Homo sapiens: one gene and its partners. The protein of the gene in region 2 purifies or fractionates together with the protein of the main gene of each other region. This does not show direct contact. Each region holds a gene or a part of one and is shown on either strand. Other genes may lie near its edges. The genes, in order: PNPLA6, PCDHB16 and GAS6.

Region 1 (3,646 bases), on a different chromosome or scaffold from region 2:
GATATTGTATTCTCTATCTGTAATTTCTTTCCTTTTCTTTTCTTTTTTTTTTTCTTTCTTTTTTTTTTTTTGAGATGGAGTTTTGCTCTGGTTGCCCAGGCTGGAGTGCAATGGCGTAGGCTCGGCTCACTGCAACCTCTGCCTCCCCGGTTCAAGCGATTCTCCTGCCTCAGCCGTCCAAGTAGCTGGGATTACAGGCACCCACCACCACACCCGACTAATTTTTGTACTTTTAGTAGAGATGAGTTTCACCACGTTGGCCAGGCTGGTCTCGAACCCCTGACCTCAAGTGATTCACCTGCCTCAGCCTCACAAAGTGCTGAGATTACAGGCGTGACCCACCGCCCCAGGCCTCTGTAATTTCTTAATGATGTCTTTTCTGCCACTACCGCCCTGCCCCCGCCTTGGGGGATCTAGGGCTCAGGGCCAATTGGGTAGAACCCCTGGAGGGAAAAGGGGTATCTAGGTTGCTGGGCTGGCCCAGAATCTGGCCACCACAATGTAGAAACTCAGGCCCTCATTTCAGCAGGCCTCCAACCCCACCGCACGCCCCATTCTGTTCTAGCTCACTGAAGCCACAGGCTGAAACAGGGGGCTACATCTCCCAGCAAGCTGTAACTTCAGAAGGCGAGGTGCCCAGAGTCCTAAACAACAATCCACAGACTATTTTCCATCATGGTATGGGGAGTTTTGTTTGTTTGCTGTTTTATTTTTTCTGAAACAGGTTCTAGCTCTGTCATCCCGGCTGGAGTACAGTGGCACGATCACGGCTCACTGCAGCCTCGACCTCCGGGCTCAAGCAATCAATCCTCCCGCCTCAGCCTCCTGAGTGGCTGAGACTACAGGCATGTGTCACCAAGCCCAGCTAATGTTTGAAATTTTTGTAGAGACGGGGGTCCTACTATGTTGCCCAGGCTGGTTTCAAACTCAATCTCCTGGGCTCAAGCGATCCTCCTGCCTCAGCCTCCCAAAGTGCTGAGATTACAGGCATGAGCCACCATGACGGCCCTGCCATCATATTCTGATCTAGGACTCCCTTTCTCTCAACGTCCAGGCCGTGGACTTCCCCAGCAAGCCCTGACTCCCGGGCAGACTACGCCAAGTCCACCGCCTAAGACTCCCTCCCCGGCACCACTGATTTACTTTCGAGCCCATTAACTAGCACGCCAGGGGTCGAGGACTTCGTTTCCCAGCATGCTCAGGAACACGAACTCCATTCCCCAGAATGCTCTGCACCTGGGTCCTACTTAGGGTTTGAAACCCTCAGGGGCACGATTTCTTCGCGGAACTCCATTTCCCAGCATCCCTCAGGAAAGAAGGCTTCCCTCCCAGCATGCTCTGGACGCCGGACTACATCTCCCAGCACGCTCTGGGCCGGCCGGCTCTCACCTGGGAAGGGTCCTTGCAGCTGCTGCAAATTCCCTAGAATTTTCTGGCTCAGTAGGTGGATAAGGCGGGTCACGACCTGGGGGCGTTGGAGGCCGGCATTTCAGTGAGACCTGGGAAGCGGCTGTCCAGGTCCCACCTCTCCCTCCTATGCCGGGGCTCCTGGGTGCCCGTTACCTGGGTCCCACCCCCGAGAGCCCCCGCCCTCACTCTCTCGCTTCGGCCCCTCCCTCGACCCCGCCCCTCTGTAAGCCCCGCCCACACACTAGGCCCGGCCCCCACCCCCCCGGAGTCCCGCCTCCGCCTCTCTGCCCCGCCCACAACAGGCCGCACCTGCGGGTACCGGCGTTTGATGTGACCCAAGGTGCCCTCGGGAAGCTTGGCCAGCTCCGTGTCGCGCACCGCGTGCACCGTCGTGGCTCGCGGCTGCCGGGTCAGTGCCTCCACCTGGGGGGCCGCGTGCATGATTGGGGCTGCTTGGGTGGGGAATGAGGAGGCCGAAGATGGGTGGAAAGGGGGCTGTACTGCCCCATCTAGGGCTCCCCTGCAATGGGGGTGTAGGGAAGCAAGCCTCGCTCGCTACCCATTAGAGCTCTGGGGAGAGGGAGAGGACAGGGATCCACGACAGGCGGAATCCCCTTTTTCCAACGAAATGAGGTCTGGGCGGGGAGTGGACTGGGTGACCTCAGAGGTCGGGAGCTGCATTCACCACTCCCTGGATTACCCGGGATGATGTGTGTGAGTTGTCGAGGGACTGGCCTGGAAAAGGCCAGAGGTCAGTGGGTGGGGGTCGCGCTCACCACGCCGATGAGGTCGCCGCGGCCGTACTCGCCCACCAGCTCCTTCTTGCCACTGCCTCGCTGGATCACGCTACGCAGCCGCCCATTGAGCACGATGTAAGTGCAGTCGGAGCGGTCGCCCTGCCTGAGTGGGCGTGGAGGTCAGCAAGGTCTGACCACCCCCAGGTCCCCACCCCTAGGCCGGGCCTGAGCAGCGCGGTGGGAGCTGCACCTGTACAGCGCGCGTCCCGCCTCCACTGCAGTCCAGTCGATGGCGAAGTCCATCTGGCGCACGAAGGGCGACATCCTGGCTGCCACCGTGTGCGCCGCACTCAGCACCACACTGGGCTGTGCGCGCATGATCCTGCAGGAACAGACTTGGGATGAAAGAGGAAGGCCTCAAAACCGTCCTACACCGGCGCTGGGAGGCCAGATCTGGGGGCTCCCTTCTGCTCTTCCAGGAGTGAGGTTGAGGGATGGGGTTCTGGCCACTCCCACGGGTTGGGGTCCTCCGAGTGCCACCCACACTCCAACTTCGGGCTGTCATACTCATAGAAGTCGGACTTGGAGATCCGCAGGAAGGTGCAGTCGCGTTGGGCTCGCAGTGTGAAGATGAGAGGTTCGCCAGTGAGCACCGCCAGCTGCCCCACCAGTTCCCCGGGCTGCGCTACGAACAGGCACACGTCCTCCGCCTTGTCGATCATGCGCTGGTACACGTGCAGGCAGCCCCAGAGCACGAAGTGCAGGCTCACGTCCTGTGCGGGCAGGGGATGTGATGAACACAGAACCCGGACAGCGTGGACCCCAGCTCAGGTCAACATGCCCCCACAGGAAAAAATTAAAGAAGAAAGGAAGGGTTAAGAAAAATATGAAGGCGCAGGGCGCGGTGGCTCACGGCTGTAATCCCAGCGCTTTGGGAGGCCAGGCAGGGGGGATCACTTGAGGCCAGGAGTTCGGCACCAGCCTGGCCAACGTGGCGAAACCTGTCTCTACTAAAATAAAAAAATTAGCTGGGCGTCGTGGCACATGTCTGTAATTCCAGCTACTCAGGAAGCTGAGGCAAGAGAATTGCCTGAACCTGGAAGGCTGAGGTTGCAGTGAGCTGAGATCATGCCATTGCACTCCAGCCTGGGCGACAGAGTGAGACACTGTCTTTAAAAAAAAAAAGAAGAAGAAGGCCAGGCGCGGTGGCTCACGCCTGTAATCCCAGAACTTTGGGAGGCCGAGGCAGGCGGATCAAGAGGTCAGGAGATCGAGACCATCCTGGCTAATACAGTGAAACCCCGTCTCTACTGAAAATACAAAAAATTAGCCGGGTGTGGTGGCGGGCGCCTGTAGTCCCAGCTACTTGGGAGGCTGAGGCAGGAGAATGGCGTGAAACCGGGAGGCGGAGCTTGCAATGAGCCAAGATCGCGCCACTGCACTCCAGCGTGGGCGACAGAGCGAGACTCCGTCTCAAAAAAAAAAAAAGAAAAAAAAGA
Region 2 (3,746 bases):
AGCGTGGCGGTGGCCGAGCGCGGAGGCTCGCCATTGTCCTTGACCAGCACCACCAGCCTCTGCTTGGCTGCGTCGCGCTCGCTCAGCAGCCTGGCGGTGCGCACCTCGCCATTGTGCGCCCACACACCGAACAGCCCGGGCTCCGTGGCCTTGAGCAGCTGGTACGACAGCCAGGCATTCTGGCCCGAGTCGCCGTCCACCGCCACCACCTTGGTCACCAGGTAGCCCGGCTCGGCCGCCCGGGGCACCAGCTCAGTGCAGGGCGCGGAGCCGTTCTGCAGCGGGTACAGCACGAAGGGCGAGTTGTCGTTGGCGTCCAGCACCAGCACGCGCACCAGCGCCTCTCTGCTCAGCGCGGGGGAGCCGCGGTCTGTGGCGCCCACGCGGAACTCGAAAGCCTGCAGGGCCTCGTAGTCCAGCGACCTGAGGGCGAACAGGTGGCCGTTGTCCGCGTTGATGGAGACCAGGGAGGCGAGGGGCAGGTGCGGGTCTTGGGGCGGCAGCAGCGAGTAGGTGACCTGGGCGTTGGTGCCCGAGTCTCTGTCTGTGGCGCTGACGCTGCCGATGTGCAGGGCGGGGCTGTTGTTCTCGCGGACGAACAGGGTGTAGGAGGTTTGGGTGAAAGTGGGGGCGTTATCATTGACATCTGATATCTGCACTGTTATGTTGTGCTCCGTTTTCAGCCTTGGAGTCCCCATATCTGTGACGGTGAGGGTGATATTATATTCAGCTCTTGCTTCTCTGTCGAGTGCTCTCTCCGTTACCAAGGTGTAAAAGTTCTTGACTGAAGGTTTTAGAAGAAAGGGAAGGTCTTCCTGGATGGAGGAAATCGTCTTCCCATTGTTTCCGGAGTCAGGATCTGAAACGCTGAAAACAGCAACTACTATCTCAGGCGAGTTCTCTGGGATGGGGCTGGTGAGTGCAGACATGGTCACCTGTGGGGGATTGTCATTCACGTCCACCACCTGCAGGAGAAGAGTGCACTTTCCTGAAAGACCTCCCCCATCTGTGGCTTTGATGCGCACTTCATAAGACGTAACCATTTCGAAATCTACTTGCTTTCTCAGTCGAACTTCCCCTGTCATAGGATTTACCTCCAAAGTTTTACTAATATCCTCCGAAGGCTGAAAGAGTGTGTATGATATTTTTCCATTGGCTCCGCCGTCTAAATCCCTGGCGGAGACGGTGGCAACCAGGGAGCCAAGAGGACTGTTCTCTGGAATCTGCACTTTGTAGATGGGCTGCTCAAACTCAGGAGCGTTATCATTGATGTCCACCACTTCAATACGGACCTGAGCAGTTCCAGATCGCGGTGGAGAGCCACCATCCAGCGCTGTCAGGGTTAATCTTAGTTGAGGCTCCTCCTCCCGATCCAGCTCTTTATCCAACACTAGCTCAGGGTATTTCCTGCCATCTCTGAATTCATGGATTAGAACCCGGAAATGAGAGCTTGGGCTGATTTTATAGTTTTGAACATTATTGCTTCCTACGTCCAAGTCCAAAGCATGATTCAGAGGGAACTCAGTTCCTAGAGGACTGTTTTCCGGTATTTTTAGAATCATTTCCTTTTCAGTGAACATGGGAGAATGGTCATTTATATCTATCACCCTCAGTTCAGCCTGAAATATTTCTAAAGGGTTTTCCATTAACACTTGGAAATGTAGTATGCAAGGCTCAGTGGGACCGCATAGCTCCTCTCGATCTAGCTTCTCATTTATGAGCAAATCCCCAGTTTGAGCCTTGAGCTGCAAATGCTGTTTGTTCCCCTGGGAAATGATCCTGGCCTTGCGGGTGGACATCTCTGTCAACCCCAACCCCAGGTCTTTTCCTAGATTTGCCACAAAAGAGCCTCTCTCCGTTTCTTCCACTACGGAATAGGACCCCAACTCGGCGCCCGCCCCAGACAAGCTCAGCAAAACAAAGAAAACAAGGACTTGCCTTTGTCTCCGATTGTGCATCCATCCAATCTCCATTGCTTTTTCTTGAAAAGTTGGTTCACAGAAGCTTCATGTATCCCCAGGATCCTAGTAGAACTGTTTTGCAGTCCAGAATGTCAGAACCAAGCAGCCCAACGGTGTCTTAAAGAGGTTTCACACTCACGTTCGCTCTGGCTCAGCTATTCTTCTGCTTCCAGGCTTTGGGAAACGGTTTGCTGGATCCTGGAGCTGCGTAGGCAGTTGTATTTTCCGTCATCTTAACCTGCAGCGCCACCACGCGTTCTCACTGAGTCTTTTACTGTGGTTGAATATTGGAGGCAAAATACTTCTAAATGTACTGAATAGACTATGTAATACAAAACACTGAGTTCTATTTTCATGTGACTTTCGTGTATACAGATGGAGCTCTGTGATGTTGTACAGGGAGGAGTACAAAGAGAAGACTGTCATTTATGTTATTGACTGTTTAATGCTGTTGAGATTAATGATTAAATAAAATTCAATGAACATTTAACCAGACATAGAATACACACTTAGAAGCAAAATTTTTCTGAAGTAACATGAGAACAGTTTCACAAGTACATCTTTTTCATGGTACCTATATAGACACTATGAGTAGACACTGCAAAATTGCAATCAGTGGTAGTTCTAAAGAGTATTTAACAATTGCTTTATTAAAGAATAAATTACTTCCTTTTCTTTCTGACACCTAACCCTGAGAAGTGTGAGTTTTTACAACTTTCAAGTTATTGGAAAATTCATTCCCAAACAAGCAAATCTCAAGGTTGGGTCTGCTACACTTTTGGATTCCCCCCACCCTTTTTTCATTTCAATGGCTTTTAATATATTCAGAGGTGTGCATCCGCCATCACAATTTTAGAACATTTTCATCTCAAGAGAAACCTTACCTCTTTTAATTATCACCGTACCCGTTCTCCCATCCCACTTATAAACATATGTGTGTGTGTGTGTGTGTGTGTGTGTGTGTGTGTGTGTGTGTAGGTTAACTGAAAAAGACTGAAGAAAGAGAATAAGAAATTCAAGAAATGAAACTATAGGTTAACTCTACTTCCTACTTAGACTCATTTCTTTAATAATGGATATGGCACGTAGAGAAAGTACAGGACTATAAATCAGGTTAATTCGCTCATCATAAAGTTCATTTGTAGTATCTGTCCCAGCATACTTAGAGCTTTGATAAGAACATGGGTATATTTGTGCAGAGTAGTATAAACAAACTATAAACTAAAACTTATATTTTCACATGAGAGTTTAGTTCATGGAGTAGGAGTAGGAATAACATAAATTTCACTTCCTTAGTTAGAAAAACAATGCTATCAGTTAATGCCTGACCATATAGCATATTGGCTAGACTTAGATTATATTTTAAATTTTTACCTTTATTATTTCAGAATTATAAGAAAGTTAATCGTTTTTTGTGGGGGGGAATGAGGTCTCACTCTGTCACCCAGCCTGGAGTGCAATGGCACAATCTTGGCTCACTGTAGTCTCTGTCTCCTGGGCTCAGGGGATCCTCTTACCTCAGCCTCCTGAGTAGCTGGGACTACAGGTTCGCAATCACACCTGGCTAATTTTTGTATTTTTGTTAGTGTCAGTGTTTTGCCCCATTGCCCAGGCTGGTCTCGAACTACTGAGCTCAAAGGGTTCAGCTTGCCTCAGCCTCTCAAAGTGTTATGATTACAGGTGTGAGCCACAGCTCACAGCCAAGTTACCTTTCTAAGCCTCAGTTTTCTCATATTTAAAAAAGGGGATAATATGTCAACTCCCTTAGGACTTGGGGAAACATTT
Region 3 (3,646 bases), on a different chromosome or scaffold from region 2:
CCTGGGCCAAGAGGGTCCCAACTTCAGAGAGACCACCTGATCCACACCTGAGCCAAGAGGGTCCCAACCTCAGAGAGACCACCTGATCCTCACCTGAGCCATGAGGGACCTGATCTCAAGGAGACCATCTGATCCTCACCTGGGCCAAGAGGGACCTGACCTCAGGGAGTCCACCTGATCCTCACCTGGGCCAAGAGGGACCTGACCTCAGGGAGTCCACCTGATCCTCACCTGGGCCAAGAGGGTCCCAATCTCAGGGAGGCCACCTGATCCTCACCTGGGCCAAGAGGGACCTGACCTCGGGGAGACCACCTGATCCTCACCTGAGCCAAGAGGGTCCCAATCTCAGGGAGACCCCCTGATCCACACCTGAGCCAAGAAGGTCCCAATCTCAGGGAGACCACCTGATCCTCACCTGAGCCAAGAGGGACCTGACCTCAAGGAGACCACCTGATCCACACCTGAGCCAAGAGGGTCCCAACCTCAGAGAGTCCCTGCTCATCATCTGGGCCAGGAGGGCCCTCGATGCATCAATGTGGTCACCAAAACCTTTCCTCATAGAAAACCTGTAAAGTCTAATGCTAGATACACTATATTCCTGAGCTTCAGAAGAATATCCTTCTTCCTGTGTGAAAACACCTTTCAGGTATTTGGGTTTGAACTGAGTCACAAAAACATGGTACAAATTCGGGTCAGCTGGGTTTGGGCAGCAGCTAGAGAGGGTGGAATTGGGGAGGGGTCCTCATGAGGTACCCCTGCTGGGGAAGGGCCTGTCTTGGTGGGGTGCTGCGGCCGCTGTGAGTCACTGGGCGGGACTACACTGCAACACCGCTCCCCCAGGTGACCTCGCCTCAGGCCACCTGCCCTGGGCCCCTCCTCCCCGTGGCTCCATCCCCTGCAACACCGCTCCCCCAGGCGACCTCGCCTCAGGCCACCTGCCCCGGGCCCCTCCTCCCCGTGGCTCCATCCCCTGCAACACCACTCCCCCAGGTGACCTCGCCTCAGGCCACCTGCCCCGGGCCCCTCCTCCCCGTGGCTCCATCCCCTGCAACACCGCTCCCCCAGGTGACCTCGCCTCAGGCCACCTGCCCCGGGCCCCTCCTCCCCATGGCTCCATCCCCTGCAACACCGCTCCCCCAGGCGACCTCGCCTCAGGCCACCTGCCCCGGGCCCCTCCTCCCCATGGCTCCATCCCCTGCAACACCACTCCCTCCAGGCGACCTCGCCTCAGGCCACCTGCCCCGGGCCCCTCCTCCCCATGGCTCCATCCCCTGCAACACCGCTCCCCCAGGCGACCTCGCCTCAGGCCACCTGCCCTGGGGCCCTCCTCCCCGGGGCTCCATCCCTGAAACTGCTTCTGCTTCCTTTGCTTTCTGTAGCTTTGCTGAGAACAGCCTCCTGCTCTTGGAGATACTGCTCCTTTAAGAGGTTGGGAAAAATGGAGCGAGGCATTGCTTTGCAGGATGGAAATACAAGTCTACAATGTTTCTGAAGGGCAAGACGTGCTTTCCACCTTTCTTCCCAACGTTTCCTTCTGCAAGCCCAGTATGGTGAGGGAGGCCCAGCGCTGTGGGCGGGAGCCTGGTTGCTTACAGGCCCTCTCGCTCCACGGATGGGGATGTGGGGTGGGCACGTTTTACCGCTGCCCACAGCTGCCCAAGTGCAGGTCTGACCAGGACCCCTCAGGTTGCCCATGGGGCTGGGGTCCAGGTGGTCAGGACGTCTCTGGCAAGGGGCAGCTCCCGTGAGGTCACCTGGACCCTTGGCATGCATGGCCGCACTGACCAGCAGGCCCTGGGAGCCAGGGCTCAGGGACCGCAGCGTCCACGCCGTCCTACAGGGAAGGGTGGGCGGGCGGCGCCTGGCCTGGCCACGGCCCGGGAGACACGTACGGCGGGAGCTCTGGGCTGTGGTGCGGGTTCAGTGGCGGCCTCCTCCCCTGGTGGGGCACCCTGCGTGTAGCGTCAAGCAGCCCTGGCTTCTGTTCCCCACTCTGCTCGGGATAAACAGCATGGCCTCCAGACACAGCCCAGGGTCCCCTGGGGCTGAGAACCACGGGTTCTACCTGAGCCAGGGTGACCAAACTCAGGGAGACCAAACTGACAGGTTGCACTCAAGGCCCCTTTCTGAGGGAGCCAGGCTGAAACGTGATGAAATAGCAGAGAGGCCTAGAGCACCACAGTGAGCCCCCAGAGCATGAACTAAACGGGGCAGGGGTCCCCGTCCCCCGGAGCATGAACTAAACGGGGCAGGGGTCCCCGTCCCCCGGAGCATGAACTAAACGGGGCAGGGGTCCCCGTCCCCCGGAGCATGAACTAAACGGGGCAGGGGTCCCCGTCCCCCGGAGCATGAACTAAACGGGGCAGGGGTCCCCGTCCCCCGGAGCATGAACTAAACGGGGCAGGGGTCCCCGTCCCCCGGAGCATGAACTAAACGGGGCAGGGGTCCCCGTCCCCCGGAGCATGAACTAAACGGGGCAGGGGTCCCCGTCCCCCGGAGCATGAACTAAACGGGGCAGGGGTCCCCGTCCCCCGGAGCATGAACTAAACGGGGCAGGGGTCCCCGTCCCCCGGAGCATGAACTAAACGGGGCAGGGGTCCCCGTCTCCCGGAGCATGAACTAAACGGGGCAGGGGTCCCCGTCCTGCCGGCACGCAGCAGATGCAGGCCCCAGAGCTCATCTCCTAACGGTTGCATAAGCGAGTGACAGCTGAGTCTGGCTCAGGGAGAACCCCGTGAGGCCTGGAAGGGGTGGCTGCCGCACACTCACTGTCTGCCACATGCCATGGTTGATGACCGGGCCGCTGCTGGTGACACGGCCGACACCGTTGTAGCGCAGCTGCAGCTCCAGCCGGCCGGCTCTCAGGGCCAGCACGATCCAGGTGCTGTCCTGGTGGCCTCCGGCAAAGAGGAGGATGCCCTCGGGGTCAAAGGTCCGGAAGTCAAACTCAGCTACCAGCCTGGGCACCCACAGGAGAAATGAGTCAGCACTGGGCACAGGCAGATGCCCGGCCCCTCCCTGCTGGCCGAACCCTGGCCCGGGCCCTGTGAAGCCAGTGTCTTGGCCATTCTAAGTTGTGTTGCCTCCTGTGGACACCTCCTCACCTGGTGGGCTGCAGCCTCTTGAAGCGCAGTCGGATCACGGGGGTCCCACTGAACATCCGGCCCAGGTACAAGGACTTCACACTCTTGGCCACGCTGAAGGGCACGCACGGCAAGATGTCCTGCCACGGACGGGGGCCACGCCGGTCGGGGATGTGGCCTTCACTCCTGCTCCCCTGAGCCCCACGCCCCGGCCGCGCAGCGGGTCCACTGTCCCTCCTGTGCCTCGGGAGTGGCCACCCCGCCTCTAGCTGCTGAGACCCCAGAGGCTGTCACACCTGCCCCACTGGGACTCCCAGGTGAAGGGCGGGCTTGCAGCAGCCGCTTCCCACAGGGCTTCTCGGGGGTCCCCGTCATCTCCTTCCCTGCTCATTTCCCTTGACCCTTTATTTTTAAATTATGAAATATTTCAAGCATACAAAAATTACAGAGAATCATTAAAAAGTATACACTATTATGAAATAGATATGGATGCCTTGAAGATGGCTGTCCTGGAAAGTTCCCTGTTCTGGGCTGTGGTTTCTCCACGCTGCCCGAAGGGGGAC

Evidence for each region.
Region 1: the proteins of PCDHB16 (region 2) and PNPLA6 purify together in Homo sapiens (affinity purification with mass spectrometry; 2 studies listed by BioGRID and IntAct, with this or other methods). This does not show direct contact.
Region 3: the proteins of PCDHB16 (region 2) and GAS6 purify together in Homo sapiens (affinity purification with mass spectrometry; 2 studies listed by BioGRID and IntAct, with this or other methods). This does not show direct contact.

The regions. Positions count from the first base shown.
Region 1 is NC_000019.10:7,549,181-7,552,826, reverse strand, and holds part of PNPLA6 (patatin-like phospholipase domain-containing protein 6), read right to left. Parts: intron 2,921-3,646; coding exon 2,715-2,920; intron 2,530-2,714; coding exon 2,398-2,529; intron 2,311-2,397; coding exon 2,187-2,310; intron 1,834-2,186; coding exon 1,720-1,833; intron 1,466-1,719; coding exon 1,390-1,465; intron 1-1,389. UniProt on the Homo sapiens protein: Phospholipase B that deacylates intracellular phosphatidylcholine (PtdCho), generating glycerophosphocholine (GroPtdCho). This deacylation occurs at both sn-2 and sn-1 positions of PtdCho.
Region 2 is NC_000005.10:141,180,787-141,184,532, reverse strand, and holds the start of PCDHB16 (protocadherin beta-16 precursor), read right to left. Parts: upstream 2,147-3,746; 5' UTR 1,974-2,146; coding exon 1-1,973. UniProt on the Homo sapiens protein: Potential calcium-dependent cell-adhesion protein. May be involved in the establishment and maintenance of specific neuronal connections in the brain.
Region 3 is NC_000013.11:113,829,530-113,833,175, forward strand, and holds part of GAS6 (growth arrest-specific protein 6 precursor), read right to left. Parts: intron 3,224-3,646; coding exon 3,105-3,223; intron 2,960-3,104; coding exon 2,770-2,959; intron 1-2,769. UniProt on the Homo sapiens protein: Ligand for tyrosine-protein kinase receptors AXL, TYRO3 and MER whose signaling is implicated in cell growth and survival, cell adhesion and cell migration.